2 separate regions of the Homo sapiens genome follow, and region 2 is linked to region 1. The links come from fine-mapping of genetic effects on plasma protein levels. Region 1 holds a variant in brackets. A gene starts in the other region. All regions are shown on their reverse strands.

What was found. PIP is the chance, under the fine-mapping model, that this variant and not a neighbour inherited with it causes the effect. Protein levels are from antibody-based Olink assays in UK Biobank. Linkage for the fine-mapping came from a reference panel and not from the study's own genotypes, which makes the PIPs less certain.
Region 2: it holds the start of ENTPD6, and the variant in region 1 is fine-mapped to the plasma level of the ENTPD6 protein (UK Biobank, PIP above 0.99).

The regions. Positions count from the first base shown.
Region 1 is chr12:101,859,121-101,868,408 of GRCh38, reverse strand. No RefSeq gene overlaps it. Among named protein-coding and RNA genes, the nearest start is that of DRAM1, 14 kb to the left of the region's middle. RefSeq lists an enhancer at 8,411-8,580. The variant C/T (reference allele first, on the strand shown) is at 4,651.
Region 2 is chr20:25,187,723-25,196,966 of GRCh38, reverse strand. ENTPD6 (ectonucleoside triphosphate diphosphohydrolase 6) reads right to left here and starts at 1,255. Exons shown (of 15, transcript NM_001247.5): 1 at 1,100-1,255. LOC101926889 (a long non-coding RNA gene) reads left to right here and starts at 75. Exons shown (of 6, transcript NR_109994.1): 1 at 75-344; 2 at 6,665-6,749; 3 at 9,020-9,114. RefSeq lists enhancers at 110-259, 640-709, 1,560-1,799 and a silencer at 1,000-1,419.

The DNA.
Region 1 (9,288 bases):
GGAGTTTTACCATGTTGGCCAGGCTAGTCTCAAACTCCTGACCTCAGGTGACCCGCCTGCCTCAGCCTCCCAAAGTGCTGGGATTACAGCCGTGAGCCACCATGCCTGGCCAATCCCCTCTCTTAGAGTGTGGACTAAAGCTGGAGATGGTGGCTCATGCCAGGAGTTCAAGACCAACCTGGACAATATAGTGAAAACCCACCTCTACAAAAAATACAACAAATTGGCTAGGCATGGTGATACACACCTGTAGTTCCAGCTACTCAGGAGGCTGAGCTGGGAGGATTACCTGAGCCCAGAGGCAGAGGTTGCAATGAGCTGTGCTCACACCACTGCACTCCAGCCTAAGTGACAGAGTGAAACTCTGTCTGAAATAAATAAATAAAATGTAAAAAAATAATAAAAAGGAGTGTGGACTAAGTGATTTGCTTCTGAAGACTTGAGTATGGAAAGAGAAAAAAAGATCTTTGCAGGAGAAATATGGTAGACACCAATTTAACAAGCTGATTAAAGTTAACATTGAAACCACCATTGCAAAATTATAACTGAGCTGACCTAACCAACTCCATTTTGCTTCCAACCTCCGAACTGTCCTTGTTCATTCCTGGGCATAGGCTGAACTACCTTTGGGAGGAACTTACTTATAGTTATGGTTTAAAACAAAGATAAGCCAGGCATGGTGGCTCACGCCTATAATCCTAGCACTTTGGGAGGCCAAGGCAGGCGGATCACCTGAGGTCAGGAGTTTGAGACCAGCCTGACCAACATGGCAAAACCCTGTCTCTACTAAAAATACAAAAATTAGTCAGGCATGGTGATGGATGCCTGTAATCCCAACTACTCAGGAGGCTGAGGCAGAAGAATTGCTTGAACCCGGGAGGTGGAGGTTGCAGTGAGCTGAGATTGTGCCATTGCACTCCAGCCTGGGTGACAGAGAGAGACTCTGTCTCAAAACAAACAAACAAACAAAAAACAAAACAATCACAAAAAAAAACAAAGATGATAACAATGATAACAGCCCTTTCCCAAAACAAACCCCCTTCTTGCCTGGGGACTAGACTGCCTTTGTAGGACTAACAAATTAGCCACAAGATTAGAAATTATGGTTTAGGAATCATGCAGCTGGAGGCTCCAAGATTCTGACCCTACCTACACTGTTCCTAATGAAGCAGGATATTTCCCTGACCCCTTCACGGGACTTGCAACAGGGGTGCCTTGTTTACTTAGCCCACCACTCTCAACTCCTTGCAGGAGGAAGCACGCAAGCAAGCAAGGCAGGAATTGGAGTGCACAAGCGCTGGAATTGGCTGGCTGCTTCAGCACCAGTGGGATCAAACTCCACTCACGCAGGCCCATTGTGTTCCACCCCTTGCGGGAGGGAGCACACAGGTGAATGGGTGCAGGAGCCAGAGTGAGTGCTTTTGGGCACCAGCAGCAGTGAAGTTTGTGCAGGCCCCTCAGCAGTGTCCAGGCAGAGGTACCTGCAACTTCCAAAGCCCCAGGGGGCGTGTTACAGTGCTCTTTTAGCTCTGCCATCCATCAGCAACTTTGTTAACAGCTCAGTGGGCCCGCTGCCCTTTCGTGTAGGCAGCTGCCCTCTGCCAGCAAAGGCTAAGGGCCAATAGACAGCCTTTTGAATCCGCACTTGTGGCTCCTGAGCTCTTGTCCAGAGTCCAGGAGAAACGAGGTCACATAAACGAATTGAAGGATGGTCATGCAGGGGATTTTATGACGGATTAAAGTGGCTTATAGCGGGAAGGGGAGCTGAAAAAAAAGATAGAGTGGGTAGGTAATCTTCCCCTGAAGTCAGCTGTCTCTGGCCGGATTGTTCTCTGAAGTTATGCCATCAAACTGTCCCTCTGAAGTCAAGTCACTTCTCTCCAACGTCCAGCCATAGTCCCCAGTGTCCAGCTGCTTCTCCTTTCTGAAGGTGAGTCTGGGGTATTTATAGGCACAGGCTAGGGTAGGGCGGGGTCATAGGTGATTCAGGAAAAGGCAACATTCAAGCGGGAAAACGGGGATATGAGTTCTGACTTTGAGCCGTGGTCTCAGGCTTTTCAGCTTGAGGGTGGGGCTTCACCAGAGACCTGCCCCTGTCTGCCTAGAATTTCTCTGCCTCCTGCCTCTTTCATTGTATCACTAAGATCAGTGCTTGAGATATTTTGCAGACCCTGCACTTGATGGATCAGCTGGAACCACCCTAGATGGATAAATTGGCTCATCTGATCTCGCGGCCCCCATCCAGGAACTGACTCAGCACAAGATGACAATTTCAACTTCCCGTGATTTTATCTCTGACCCAACCAATCAGCACTCTTGACTCACTGACCTTCCCCACTCACCAAATTATTCTTAAAAACTCTGATCCCTTGCCAGGCGCAGAGGCTCATGCCTGTAATCCCAGCACTTTGGGAGGCCAAGGCGGGTGGATCACAAGGTCAGGAACTCTAGACCAGCCTGACCAACATGGTGAAACCCCGTCTCTATTAAAAATACAAAAATTAGCTGGGTGTGGTGGCAGGCACCTGTAATCCCAGCTACTTGGGAGGCTGAGGCAGGAGAATCGCTTCAACCGGGGAGGCGGAGGTTGGAGGAAGCTGAGATCGCACCATTGCACTCTAGCCTGGGCAATAAGAGCGAAACTCTGTCTCAAAAAAAAGAAAAAAACCAACAAACAACTCTGATCCCTGAATGCTCAGGGAGACTGATCTGAGTAATAATACAACTCCATCTCCCACACAGCTGGCTCTGCATGAATTACTCTTTCTCTATTGCAATTCCCCTGTCTTGATAAATTGGCTCTGTCTAGGCAGTGGACAAGGCAAACCCATTGGGCGGTTACAAATTTGGGGCTCGTCTGGGATTGCCCTGTAATTACCTGCCTGTGGTTCAGTAGCCCCCCTCCAGCAATGGATCCAGAGGCCAGCCCAAGCAGCCACCTAGTTCTCTTGGACTGGGGGCTGACTCTGGTACTCTCTACTGGTGGGACACGGTTGACCCAAAGAGATGAATTTGGCAGGGTGTCTGTTTGTAGCTCCATCATAGGTTGTCTGTTTTGTTTGGCTCCTGGGAGGTCTCACTTGGCTCTCCCTAACTAATAGGAAGATTCCTGATTCTGGAGACTTCTCCTTGATGAGGAAGATTTCAGGGAGATTTCTCAGATGGAGAATAGGATAGTTTGGAAGGGATACTCTTGGAATTCTTGGTTAGGGATCTGATTTGGAAGGCCTTCTGTCTGTCATATCTTTGTGTGTGTTTGTATATGTGGAAGGGATCTCAGAAGGAATTGCTGATGGAAGTCCAGCATGCCTAACTCAGAGAACCCTTCTTATTTGTCCGGTGACATTTGGTGAGCCCTGAAGAAAGTTCAATAGGCCTGTCTCGGGGTGTAATTCTCATAATGTGTGTGTGTGTGTGTGTGTGTGTGTGTGTGTGTGTGTGTGTGTGTGTCACACAGGGTCTCACTCTGTCACCCAGGCTGGAGTGCAGTGGCATGATCTCAGCTAACAACAACCCCTGCTGCCTGGGTTTAAGCAATCCTCAGCCTCTCGAGTAGCTGAAGCTACAGGCATGTGCCACCACACCTGGCTAATTTTTGTATTTTTATTAGAGATGGGGTTTCGTCATGCTAGTCAGGCTGGTCTTCAACTCCTGACCTCAGGGTTTTGCCATGTTAGCCAGGCTGTTCTCGAACTCCCAACCTCAAGTCATCTGCCCACCTCAGCTTCCCAAAGTGCTAGGATTACAGACATGAGCCACTGCGCCTGGCTAATTCTCACAATTTGGAAGGCTAAGGTGGGAGCATCACTGGAGCTCAGAAGTTCAAGCCCATCCTGGGCAACATAGGGAGACCCCTGTATCTACAAAAAAATTTAAAAATTTAGCCAAGTGTAATAGCTGGACCTGAGGTAGGAGGATTGCTTGAACCCAGGGGGATGAAGCTGCAGTTAGCCATGATCTCGCCAACTGCACTGCAGCCTGGGCAACAGAGTAAGACCTTGTCTCAAAAACCAAAAATACAATCTCATATAATTTCACACTTCATTAGTGTCTTAGTTTGGGCAGCTATAACAAATTACCATAGATAGAGTGGCTCCAATTACAATCATATATTTCTCACAGTTGTGGATGCTGGGAAGTCCAAGATCAAGGTGCTTGCAGATCCCATGTCTGGTGAACCCCAGCTTCCTGATTTGCATCATCTTGCTGTGTCCTCCCAGGGTGGAGAGTATAAAGAGAGAGGAAGCCAGCACATTTCATGACTTCTAATAAGGGCATCAATCCCATCATGAGGGCTCCACCCTTATGATCTAATTACCTCCCAAAGCCTCCACATTCTATTAGCATCCCATTGTGGTTTTCTTTTTCTCTTTTCTTTTTTTTTTTTTCTTTTTTCTTTCTTTTTTTTTTTTTTTTTGAGATGGAGTCTTTCTCTGTCACCCAGGCTGGAGTGCAATGGAGTGATCTCAGCTCATTGCAATCTCTGCCTCCTGGGTTCAAGCAATTCTCCTGCCTCAGCCTCCCAAGTAACTGAGACTGCAGGTGCATGCCACGAAGCCCAGCTAATTTTTGTGTTTTTAGTATAGATGGGGTTTCACTATGTTGGCCAGGCTGGTCTCAAACTCCTGACATCAAGTGATCCACCTGCCT[C/T]GGCCTCCCAAAGTGCTGGGATTACAGGCATGAGCCACTGCAACTGACCCTGTTGGGGTTTAAGCTTTCAACAAATGACTTTGAAGGGGACACAAATATGTAGCTCATAACACTGAGTCACCTTATTGATACAGAATGCCTGGGGTCCCAGCTAAACCCACTCTAAGCCTGGCCCTAAGTGAAAACAGCTGACTCCATTTTTCCACCCAAACGCTGCCTTTTTGGTCTGCCCTGCCCCTATGCTGTGCCCACAAAGAACATCAGCCGGCAAAGCAAAAAAAAAAAAAAAAAAAAAAAAATAGCTAAGCGTGGGGGATACAAGCGGCTGAATGGCAAGCAGAGAAGCAGCAACTGAGCATTGGAAACTACGGATAGACACAGCTAACTTCAGATGGTGCGGCTTCAAGGAAAGATCCCTTCTTCCCACACCATCCCCTTTCCAACTCCCATCCCACTGAGAGCCACATCCATCACCCAATAAAATCCTCTGCATACACTACCCTTCAATCTATTCATGTGACCTGATTCTTCCTGGATGCCGAACAAGAACCTGGGTTCTTGAACACTGCACAGAGCCTGCTCCCACCAGAGAGGAGTGACTGGGTGGTTCCAGCATTCATTCCCTCCGGTTCCCACATTCACTTGCTCACATGCTACCTCTCGTGAGGAGTGGCCAGCGGTGGGCTGAGTAAAAAGAGCCATTCCTGTTCCCACTCATGACGGGGGTCAAGGTCAAGGGAACAATCCCATTTCACTATGACAACCATACTCCTTTTTTTTTTTTTTTTTTGAGATGGAGTCTGGCTCTGTCGCCCAGGCTGGAGTGCAATGGTGTGATCTCGGCTCACTGCAACCTCTGCCTCCTGGGTTCAAGCGATTATGCCGCCTCAGCCTCCTGAGTAGCTGGGATTACAGTCATATGCCACCATGCCTGGCTAATTTTTGTATTTTTAGTAGAGACCGAGTTTCACCATGTTGGTCAGGCTGGTCTGAAACTCCTGACCTGGTGATTCGACCATCTCGGCCTCCCAAAATGCTGGGATTACAGGCATGAGCCACTGTGCCCGGTCTGACAACCATACTACTTTTCTAAGTTGTATTGTAGAAGCAGAAAACATATGTCGAGGCAGAAATGATGAGATGTTCACCTGGGATAAGAGATTTATGCTACTTTTCTACTGTGTAGTTCTTGCTGGGAAGAGGCTTCTCAGGCAGGGACTTCATTTCCTAGGCCTCTGAGAAAAGAAAAATAACTCAGAGCACCCTGTGGTATGGGAAGTATGTAAAATTCAGCAGGCCAGAAAGACATGAGTAGAGGACTTCAGCCATGCCCTGCCATGCCCATGCCTGAGGACAATTGTTTAAAGATATTTTGTTCCTGACTAGCTGCCTTACCCATTATCATTGAATTCCTGGAATTTGTGATGCAAAGAACAATGTACGGCCAATCAATAGCTTATGTTATTTGAATATAAATTCTTGGGAAGCAAGTTAGGAATTACCTTTTCTTTTTCTTAAAAACCTACTTGGCTGGGGGCTGGGGGGTAGTTTTGGGATGAGACAAGCACATTAGTTATTGTGTACTTTATTTCTATTATTATTATATTGTAATATATAATAAAATGATTATATAACTCACCATAATGTAAAATCAGTGGGAACCCTGAGCTTGGTCACCTGCAACTAGACAGTCCCATCTGGAGGCGATGGGAGATAGTGACAGATCATCAGACATTAGATTCTCATAAGGAGCCCACAACCTAGATCCCTGGTATGCACAGTTCACAATAGGGTTCATGCTCCTATGAGAATCTAATGCTGCCACTGATCTGACAGGAGGCGTGGCTCAGGTGGTAATATGAGCAATGGGGAGTGGCTGTAAATGCAGATGAAGCTTTGCTTGCTCACCTGCTGCTCACCTCCTGCTGTGCAGCCTGGTTCCTAATGGGCCACAGGTGGTACTGGTCCATGGTTCAGGGGTTGGGGACCCCAATGTATAGTATTATTCTTACTTTGTAAAATAAAATGCATGTGTATTAATTTATGAAAAATAAGCATGAAGAATGAATCTGTAAAATGATATACCAAATTATTAGCAATGTCATCTGGAACCATATGATTCTCCTTTTATTTTCATTTATAAAAATATCTGTATGTCTAATTTTTTTACACTGGATATATAGCATGTGTTCAATAAAGAAATAGGAAGGAAGAAAGGGGGGGAGGGAGGGAAGGAGGGAGGGAGGGAGGGAGGGAATGCATTCACACCCACACCTTTATATATATATATTTTTTTTTTTTAAATAGAGACAGCATCTCACTGTGTTTCTCAGGCTGGCCTTGACCTTATGAGCTCAAGCAATCCTCTTACCTTGTCCTCTCAAACTTGTGGGATTATGGGTGTGAACCACCACAGCCCGCCCACATCTTTATATCTTTTGAAAAAAATCAAGATACTGTATTTTTACATTGCAAGATCATAGGGATCATTACACCCAAGTAGATGTTACATCCTCCATCCAAGAGTCCTTTGAAACACTTAAGTTTATTTGAGTGAGAGTGCATAACCATTGCTCTGAACAAAAGGGGCACACATACTAGTGTGTACTCTCTCTTTAAAAAGCACCATGAATATTACAACATCTACTCTCCCTTTTGTGATCAGGAAGAAACTTAAAACGAGCTCTTGTGGGTAGGGACCAGGTAGAATCTCTTCCTTCTATTCCTGCTTCTGGCATTGAGCATTGTTACAATGGGGATGTCAAGACTGGGACTAGCCAGTGCAGTGTCAGTGGTCACCATGTGAATGGCTCACCCTGTGTGTGTGCATGTGCATGTGTGTCTCTGTGATTGAGTGCACATATGCGCCTGCACATGTCTTTTTCATGGCAGAGGCCCCTCACCTGTGAATGGATTCTAGGCCCTGTTCGCTGGTGTGGAGGGAAGCACTCCTTTATAGAAACTGGGGACACTTCAACATGTTCTCAGTGAGTTTTGGATAAGACAGAGATTACACAGCGAGCTGGAGACTTTTCTGAGCTATACTTACTTATATATAACTAACCTCCAAAGATACACTGTTCATTTCTTTGTGGATCATTCATCTGGCAAGCTTCTGTTCTTTCTTCACGTTATTCTCCTAGAATGTAAGCTTCATGCAGGTAGGAATATCTTTCTCCTTTATTCACTACTGTATACCCAGGCTTGGAGCTGGGCTTGACATAGGCACTTAATAAATGCTTGTGGATTGTATTCTCCTCAGCAATGGCCTTCTTCAGGAAGCCCTTCCTAACAGCCCCAAAGTGTGACCTCTGTGTCACTTCTCTGTATCCTCAGGCTCTTTATATTACAGATTTCACAATGTTAACTTGTCAACCTAGTGGATAGACTCTAGACTCTAAATGTTGTGAGCAGGAATTGAATCTTACATATTTCTATTTCCAGTGCCAAGCACCAGCACAAAATAAGTGGTTAATACATGTTTATTGAAAACATGTGTACAGATAGATGCATGCTTGATAGTAGTTTGACACTATTACCTATAGAATCTGATGCTATACATTTGTACATACCAGCAGCATAGTAGCACCTCATAAAAGGTACTGTAAACCCTGTGAGTACAGACATCAGAAGGAAGAAGCAAAGGTTTAAAATTTTTCATTACTCAAAGGGAGAGAGCACCAGTGCCCTTTGTGGGAATGACACTTGACTGTTTTAAGGATAATCTGATTATTACAAGTTATTACAAGTTTGGGCAATGGCATTAAATACATCTTAAGTTTCATATTTTTTGGCAGATGCTTTCATGCTACCAGAGATGAAGAAAAAAAGCACATTTGAGAAATTTGGGAATTTCCATTATGACAATGTGAGAAATTCTTGTAAGTTTTAAGAGGTCAGGTTTTTTTTCTCCCTTCCCCTTATGAATAGTTTCTAAATTACCTCATGAATATAGGAACTCATATGATCTGACTTTCTCAGTTTAGCTAATCATAAATCTCTATTTACTTCAACAATTCTACATAGGGTATTCCTACAAGGTGCAGTTCATGTTTTAGTTGTCATTATCTGCAGACAAACTGAGTATGATACTCCCATTCACAAAGATCTCATTGATTTATCTCTCCACACAGTGAATACATTACAAAAGGAGGAAAAGATTTTGTCAGGTTTTTTTGTTTGTTTTTTTGTTTGTTTGTTTGTTTTTTGATACAGAGTCTCCTTCTGTTGTCCAGGTTGGAGTGCAGTGGCGTGATCTTGGCTCACTGCAAACTCTGCCTCCCAGGTTCAAGCGATTCTCCCCCTTCAGCTTCCCGAGTAGCTGGGACTATAGGCGCCCACCACCATGCCTGGCTAATTTTTGTATTTTCAGTAGAATCGGGGTTTCTCTGTGTTGCCTGGGCTGGTCTCAAAATCCTGACCTCAGATGATCCACCCGCCTCGGCCTCCCAAAGTGCTGCAATTACAGGCATGAGCCACCACTCCTGGCCACAGTTGTTTTTCTTTTTATATCTGATATGAATTGGACAAGAATTGAAAGTGGCTATGATAATGACAAAAAGTTCAGAAGGTAATTGTTTGCTTCCCTGCTCAAGGACAAAGAGAGGAGGATTCTTTTGAGAGAGGGGTTTCTTTCAT
Region 2 (9,244 bases), not on the chromosome of region 1:
GTGGGAGGGGAGGCGCTTCCAGATCTCCTGACACAAAGGGCTGCCCACCTCCCTGGTCCTTTACCCGAACCTTCAGGAGGCAGACGACACACACACTAGCCAGCCACTCTCTCCAAGGCAAGGGGAGGGGGACAAAAAGCAATTTTGAGATTTGTACAGTGCTTGCCAGGTCCTTCAAAAATGACTACCGGCCGCCCATGGCTCTTGCACAGCGGGTGGGAGGAAGAGTCCTTGTAATCCACCTCTCCCAAGGAACTCCTGCGCGAGGTTTCAGATTCCCCGCCTGCAGGCTATGGCTGACTTCCCCGTATCCTGTGTGACGTGGGATGTGTGGCTTCGCGCAGGTAAGGCTGGAATACAGGTGCCTGGAGGGACACCCAGAGCTGCCCAGGCACTTCCCGGCGGCTGCTTCCTTTGCACTTTGCACTTACAGGTGCACTTATAATAAAAACACCCTCCCTTCCACGCTCCCCTGGGCCCTCCCATCTCTCCTTCCTCTTCCACGCTCTCCTGGCTGTTGAATGTTTTCCACTGAAGGAGTCTAGTCTGTCCACCTAGGGGGCTCTCCCTCCCTCGGTCCAGGGCATTCGCGGCTCACAGGTCAGCTCGGGCAGAACCGCCCTGACCACCTATGAGCTCCTCGGGACACCACCCCAATGCCAGGGTGAATCGTCCTTACACCCTCAGTCCTGTCCGAGCGGCCTGATCCTACCTGTTTCCCAGAAACTGCTACGCGAAGCTTCCCCGCCGGGCTCATCCAGGGCGGAGGGGTCTGTCCCTGACGCAGACTGGGGGCGGGTCCGCAAAAGCGGGCTGAATGAATGAACGCAGCAGGGCTGGGGCCCCCTGGGGCTACAGGCCCCTGCTATTTGGCCCGCCCTGTGGCCCAAAACACTGGACTTGCCCCCCACCGGTCAGCGGAGCCCAGACATCCAGGGAGCCCTAATGGAGCCTGGACAGGAAGGCAGCAGGAGGTGGGACCCGGGGTGCGAGTGACCCCGAGGCCGTCCTCCGGAGCGCAGCGCGCCCGCGTGGGGGAGGCCCGCCTACAGTCGGTGATCCCCGGCCGCCCCCGCCAGCGCCCCGGCCCGCCGCTTACCATGCACCGCGCGCTCCGCCACACCCACGGAGACGAGTGCCCTTTTCCGGGGAGCAGGCGGCAGCCGGTCTTTTGGGCTCCCCCGCCCCGGCCGGCGCCACCCCGGCCTCCACCCGCGGGATACGACCCCACGATTCCCTAGGGCCTGGGCTCCGCCCCATGCACGTGGCGTCACAGGCTGGGCGGGGGGGCGCACCCAGCCGCGCATGCGCAGGCGGGAGAGGAGGTGGGGGTCGGGGGACCCAGTTGCGCAGGCGCGGGCGGAGTATGGGTGCTCAGCTGCGTAGGCGCGATGGCCTTCTTTTCTTTCTGCAGGTGGCCTTGCGGTTTTCTCCAGTCCACAGCCGGGCTGGCGTCGGCCCAGAGAGGGGGGCTCGGCAGTCTGGTTCCCCGAGCGTCTCATGGCGGGCCCTCGCCAGATTCAAGGGGTTCCCTTGGCCAGTTTCCTTACGGCGCGGCGGAGCTGGCCCTCGTCGTCCCTGGTAGGGGGCAGCCTCACAGCCTGGACCGGCCTGTGCAATTTCCCCCATCCCTCCACGTCTACATTTTATTTTTTTCTTTTTCTTTTTTTAGGACAATGCATGATGGAAATGCAGCCACATCATAGCAGGCAGGTTCATGAAATCTGCCCTCCTCCCACCGTTTCTTGACCCCATTTTCTTATTTTTTTTTTTAACAGGTTCTCACCCAGGCTGGAGTGCAGTGATGTGGTCTCAGCTCACTGCAACCTCTGCCTCCCGGGTTCAAGCGATTCTGTTGCCTCAGCTTCCTGAGTAGCTGGGATTACAGGTGTGCGCCACCACGCCTGGCTAATTTTTGTACCTTTAGTAGTGACGAGGTTTCGCCCTGTTGGTCAGGCTGGTCTCGAACTCCTGACCTAAGGTGATCCGCCTGCCTCGGCCTCCCAAAGTGCTGGGTCTATAGGCATAAGCCACCACACCCGGCCCTTGACCCCATTTTCTGTCTTCCTAGAAATCACCAAGGTTGCAACTCCTGACTGTCCTGGCTCACAGGCTCCAGCTTACTTAAGGACCCCACGGTGGGGGCTGCCCACTTGCACACCTATGCTAGGCGCCCTCATTCCCGCAAGGGCCAGAGCCCCTTCCCGGCCCATGGCGTCTGGCCAAGGAGGTGTGGGTGCGCCCCAGCCAGGCCTGGTCCTAGAGGACGGCCCCACCTGCGCACTGGGGCATCTGGGAGAGCTATTAGTGGAAGAAGCCCAGGTTCCTGAAGCACCAAGTGGGCAAGAGTTTATTTTCAGGATGGGACGCTTTTGAGGGTGAATAAGTGCTAGCTGTATGGGATGCGGGGACAGTACACAGGCCCGGCCTGGCAGCCGGGCAATGCGGTGCCTGTTGGAAGGTCGCCCACAAGCACCTGGTTGGACACTGCCACTGAGATTTGGTTATTACAGAGGTTAGCCTATGCGGGCCTTCACTGATGGACCTTGAAGTGTTTCCCAGTTGCTTTGGGTTAGGAATAATGTGACTGGATCCCGTGGATTGTCTTTGTGCATGCATGTGGGTATATCTGTCAGAAATATTCTTAGAGGTGGAATTGGCTATGGTGGGATATGTCCTTTAAAATAATATATTAGCCAAACGTGGCTAAATTGCCCCCCTTAGACACTGTACTAATTTACACTCTGGCAAATAATGTGTAAGACTGTGGGTTTCCACACATCTTCACCAGTGGGGTCTTTCCAAACTTTTGGATCTTTCCCAATCCAATAATGACAAAACTATATCTCATGGTTTTAATTTACACTTCCTAGTATTTTGAGATCCTGTCGTGAAGTGGTGATGGCCCTGTTTCTGCCTGCTGCACTTGGCAACATGTGTTATCACTTCCTTTCTTTTCACCACTTTTTACTCTTAGAGTTTCTAGAATTTGTGAAAGTAAAATCTTTTTGCTGGCATGGGCTTTTGTGTGTATTATACACTGCTTGGAAAGGTCTTGCACCACATCTTCCCTTCGTAGATTGTTTCTCAATGTTTAATACTCAGCTCAAATGTCACCTCCTCAGACCATTTTATCTAGAATGGCCTCCTCTAGTTATTCTCTGTCACCTTTTATGTTATTTCCTTCATAGCACTCATCACACTGTAACCACCCAACAGCTTCTTCTTGCCTGTCGCCCAGATAGAGCCAATTTTTCAAGATGGGAATTGCAATAAAGAGTTCGATACACATAGAGCTGGCTAACCAGGAGAGCAGAGGCTTATTACTCCTCAAATCAGCCTCTCCTCAAATTCGGAGTCTAAGGAATTTTTTGGGGGGGGTTTGTTTTTGAGACAGTGTCTTGCTTTGTTGTCCAGGCTGGAGTGCAGTGGTGCAGTCTAGGCTTACTGCAACCTCCACCTCCTGTTCAAGCGATTCTCATGCCTCAGCCTTACAAGTAGCTGGGATTACAAGCGCACACCACCATGCCCAGCTAATTATTTGTATTTTTAGTAGAGACGGGGTTTCACCGTGTTGGCCAGGCTGGTCTCGAACTCCTGCTCTCAAGTGATTTGCCCTCCTTGGCCTCCCAAAGTGCTGGGATTGTGCCAGTCTGGAGGCTAGGGTTTTTAAAAGATAGTTTAGCAGTCAGGGGGCTAGGGAATGGTGAGTGCTGATTGGTTGGGTTAGGGATGAAATCCTGAAGAGATGAAGCTTTCGTCTTGCTCTGGGTTAGTTCCTGGGTTGGGGTCACAAGACGAGATAGCCAGTTTACCAGTCTGGGTGGCTAGTCCATCACAATGTGGGGTCTGAAAAATACCTTGAACACCAATCTTATGTTATATAATAGTAATATTATCTATTGGAGCAATTATGGAGGTTAGGAATCTTGTGGCTTCGGGCTGCATGACTCCTAAGCCATAATTTTTTTTTTTTTTTTTTTTTGAGATGAAGTCTTGCTCTTGTCCCCCAGGCTGGAGTGCAATGGTGTGATCTCGGCTCGCTGCAACCTCTGCCTCCCGGGTTCAAGCAATTATCCTGCCTCAGCCTCCTGAGTAGCTGGGATTACAGGCACCTGCCACCACGCCCGGCTAATTTTTATATTTTTAGTAGAGACAGGGTTTCACCATGTTGGCCAGGCTGGTCTTGAACTACTGACCTCAGGTGATCTGCCCACCCTGGCCTCCCAAAGTGCTGGGATTACAGGTGTGAGCCATCGCGCCCGGCCCATAAATTTTAATCTTGTGGCTAATTTGTTAGTTTCACAAAGGTGGTCTGGTCCCCAAGCAAGAAGGAGGTTTGTTTCAGGGGGGGGCTGTTATATTTGGTTTAAAGTGAAATTATAAACTAAGTTTCTCCACAGATTTGTTTGGCCTATGCCCAGGAATGTGCAAAGGCAGATTGGAGGTTAGAAGATGGAGTCGGTTAGGCCAGCTTTCTTTCACTGTTGTAATTTTCCTATGTCATATTTTTCTTATTGTCATAATTTTTGCAAAGACACAACACCCGTCATTACTTGTTTGCTGACTTGTTTATTGGTAAATTCTTTGTTCCACTACTGAAATGAAGCTCCATGAGAACAAATAAGTTGGTCTGTCCTGCTCACTGCTGCATGTCTGGCACTCTGTCTAGAACATGGTAGGTGCCTGTAGCATACATTATTGGTGCTAATGTCCCTTGCCTGCCTCTGCCGTCAGCTCTCTGATTGTTGTGGAGAGTTCCCCTGAATGCTGCCACCTCAAGCATCTCGTTGCTGTCCTCTTTAGGGCTTATCTTACGACTTTCTCCGGAAGCCTTGGGAGCAGGCGCAGCCTGGAATTCAGGGAAATTTAACATCCCCGGGGCAACTGCAGGGCAGTTTGGGTGGCCTTGGACAGACCCAGTCCCCTTTTTACCATGTAGTTCTCAGGAATAACTGCAGAATGTGCTAGGATTGCAGCATCTTGAGATAAGGGAGAACTGGCTGAACAGCCCAAGGTCAGTTCCAGTCTCCTGCTGAAAATAGGATGTCCTTCAACACTGCCCAGCAAATCACATTACCCTGGGATGTTAAACCCAGGGCAGGCTGCTCTCTGGCATTCCTCGTCTGTGGTGCAAGTGGGGCATGCCCAGTTGAGACTCCATTTGCCCTGAGCAGATTTCCTGAGCCTCAGGCAACCAGCTTGCAATGAATGCTCCTCTTGTCCCTTGCTGCCTGTCTGTAAGTAATAAATTTGCTTCATATAACTTATTGAGTATGAATGCGTTCTCTCTCACTGGACACAGACATGTTGGTAACCAATGCACAGTGAACCTCCTTCACAGCAACCCTTAATTAACTGGGGATATATACCTCAGCCTTCTGTCCCCAGAGGACCAATTCTGAGTCCTCAGTAGAAGTGAGCCTCAGTGACCCTTAGTGGTGATCAGCTCAGTAATGCCCCCTTGGGTTGGTCCTCCGATCTTTCTCGGTTCTCTCTCTCTCTCTCTCTCCTGCTTCTGGGAATCACCTCCCAGGTCAACTACCTGCATCTAAGCTCTTGACTCAAACTGCCTTTGGGTAAACTCAAATGAAGTCAACATATAAAATATTTCTTGAAGAAATGGATGGATTGATGAGGGTGCTTCTAATGTTTTCACTTGTCAGCCAGAAGCAGCTCAGCCCTGCAGGCAGAAGGTGAAGGAAGCCAATTGGCACCCGCCCTAGGAATGCAGGAGCAGATAACTGAGACATGGGCTCCAGCAGAACATGTATGCAAGTGTTCTGACAGCAGGGGGGAGTGCCTGGCCCTGCTTTTTGGGGGTGAGAATGTTTTAGAAGAGGTTGGTGAGTTACCAAGCTGCCTCAATTTACCTAACTTGAGTAATAGTGGAGGAAGCCCTCTATTGTGTGTGGCTTGCTCACATGTGTCCACCTACTCACAAAAGTCCAGGAGGACAGCTGCAAAGCTGTCTGCTCAGTGAAGGAACAGAACATGGACTGTGCAGTGTCTCTGTAGCAGAGGCTGCCAGGCCTCCTGCCTGTGTCTGTCCCACTGTGTGCTCCCGTGACTCTCCACAGCAGGGCCTTCTTTTGGCAGAGGAAGTGCCAGGAGGTAATGCTTCTGAGAGCAGTTTCAGCCCATGTCAGGTGCAAAGACCCTGGCTCCCTTTCCACTCAGGACAACTCTCCGGCATGTCTACTTGGCATTGAACACAGTGGTCCAGAGCGGTAACCCACACTGGCTTTCCTCCCTTCCCTGTCTCACTGCCCCACTCCTCTACTGGTTTTTCCTGGTGTCACCTCCTAAATAAACTACTTGCACTCAAATCATTCTTTAGAATTTGTTTTGGAAGAATTCAACCTAAGATACCATCACTCATAGGTCATTTGTTAATAATATCAAACAAAACATCTTAGCCACTGCTCTGATTTCTTCCTTTGGTTCCCTGAAATCTATAACCACAAATCACTGCTTTCTCTACCAAATATTTTTCCTGTAACTCACCAAAAAAGTCAGATCTTCCCTGCTCATGGCTAGCCTTCCATTTTCCAAAATCTACTACAAACAAGAAAAAATGTGAGGGAAACCCTACTCTTCCCCAAGAGAACTTGGCATTTATGATTCCTGCCTGCCACATGGGCCATTGTGTGGTCTCTTTTAGCTTCCCGATGGATGATCCAACAGATGTCATCTTGCACTGTAGTGATAGTCTTGTTGGGACCACATGAAGTGCAGCTGTAAAACAGGTAATACTGTTCTTGGCAATTGGTCGACTGTCCTGGTAGGGGGAGACTGGTGTGAACAGATTGTCCCATTTAGAGTAGCTGTTAATGGACTGTCTTCTCTCCATGAGGGCCTTTAGCATTTTACATTGTATAGGTTGTCGTCTACCAGATTAAGAAAATGTTCTTCTATTTCTAGTTTAAGAGTTTTAAAAAATCATTAATGAATGTTCAGTTTTATTTTGTGCATTTCCTTCATCTATACATGATATTATTATTTTTCTCCACTAATTTTCTTTTTTGTTTGAGATGGAGTTTCGCTCTGTCACCCAGGCTGGAGTGCAGTGGCATGATCTTGGCTCACTGCAACCTCCACCTCCCTGGTTCAAGCAATTCCCCTGCCTCAGCCTCCCAAGTAGCTGGGATTACAGGCACACGCTGGCATGCCCAGCTAATTCTTTTGTATTTTTAGTAGAGACGGGGTTTCACCATGTTGGCCAGACTGGTCTCGAACTCCTGACCTCAGGCAATCCACCTGCCTCAACCTTCCAAAGTGCTGGGATTACAGGCGTGAGCCACCGCGCCGGCCCACTAATTTGTTAATATGATAAGTTCTAACGTTGAATCATTCCCGCATTCCCAAATAAGCATACTTTTAAAATACATTGCTGGATTTGACTTGCTAACATTGTGTTTAGGTTCTTTGCTCCTACATTCACAAAAAGATTGGCTTCTAATGTTCTTTCTAATATAGTACTTGTTTAGAAACTATCAAGATTAAATTAGCCTTACAGAATGAGTTGGAGATTTTCTGCCTTTAAATCTTCTAAATGGGTTTAAGTTTTGAAGTTTCTATTTCTTGAATATTTGATGGAATATTTCTGTTTTCTGTGTGAAATATTTTAAACTGCTGATTCTATTTCTAATCAAGCTTTCTACTTCTTTCGCAGGCAGTTTTGGCATCTTTCTAAAGGAATCATCACATTTCACCTAAGTTTTCAGTGTTACTGGTATAACATTATTCACATCTTCTTAGCATTTGCAGCGATAGCCTCCATTTCACTCATAATAATTAATTTGTAAATTTTCCTTTTTTTCTTGGTCAGCATCTCCAGAAATGCCTAAGTTTTATTACTTCTCTTCCCCAAGAGCTAACTTTTGGCTTTGTGGAACTCCTCTGTATCTTTGTTTAATATTTTTAAATTTATTTCATCTTTATTATTTCTTTCTTTGTACTTAGAGTGTGTTGTTTTTTAAAATTTTCTAGTTTAAGCTGAACACATATTAATTTTTAGCCTATCTTCTTTTTTTAAATTAAAGACTAAAACTTTATTATTCTTATTTAAAATAAATGAAGCAAAAGAAGTTACAAGAGAACTTATGTCTAACCAAGAGGCAGGTGGGTGAGTGGGAAGGGAGGCTGTTCTCTGCTCACTGCAATGCTGCACATCATGGTGGAGAGTAGGTCATGCTGTGAGAAACAAACTCACTGGTCCAAACCCAAAGTTTGGGCTCAGAGACCCAGAGAACAGTGGAAGCGAGACTTTAATGACAATCTTGCAAGATCGGGTGTCTGATGGGCAGGCACACCCAGTACAGTTTCAAAAGCAATTTATCCCCTAGTGTGCAGGTCCCTCCCTTGGTTCCTCATAGGCTGAGTACTATGGGGTCACAGTCTTCCTGGACATTGCCTATTGGTTGTTGGGTAGGGGTTTTAGGCATTTTCTTTAGGATTGTTCTGCTGCATTTTGTTGCAGCCATAATACATTGCAATCCTAGTTAGCTCAAGGGCTCTTCAAGTACTTGACTTATGACCTAAGTATCTGGGCAGGCTGATAAGAACAGACAAAGTGAGCTATTTTGCAAGCTAGTAAACTTTCATCTTAGACTAAACTCCTTTGGTTTGGGTGAGGGCAACTAAGGCAGTGGGGTAGGGTGGAGGGTGGGGAGGCGACAAGCAGGCATTGGCTATCCAAGCAGGGGCCTAGTGTATCCTGTTTCTTCTGTAGTTTGCTGACCTAAACCAATTCAAGGCACTTTGTCTTGGAAATGGACCACTGTATATATTATTTCCTTCATGCTCAGTACAGATAGCTCTCTCAGGGTTATTGTTAACATTCAAGGGGTGATAAAACAAATGCTTCCTGCAGCCAATTCCATTATCTAAGAATCCAAGTCAAATTTTGTTTTGTTTTGTTGAGAAAGGGCATTGCAAAGGTTCAAAAAAATGAAGTCCAAATAGCACTGTATCATCAAGCATTTGCCTTTTTAAAGAATGTATGTATATTTTACAGCCCAGCACCTCACGCTCAGGAAGGGTGTTTCTGAAGACTGATAAAGCCCCTTCAGTGAATGGCGCCAGGGCACAGCTGTCCACGACAAAGTGAGGGTTAGTAACTGCAGCGAGGAAGCCACATCAGAGGCCTCCTGCCTTCAGCATGGGATAGACAGGATTGCGGAGAAGGGAGGAGTTCAGGTGAAGTTTAAAATGAAGCCGTTTCTGACAGGCTGAAAGCAGG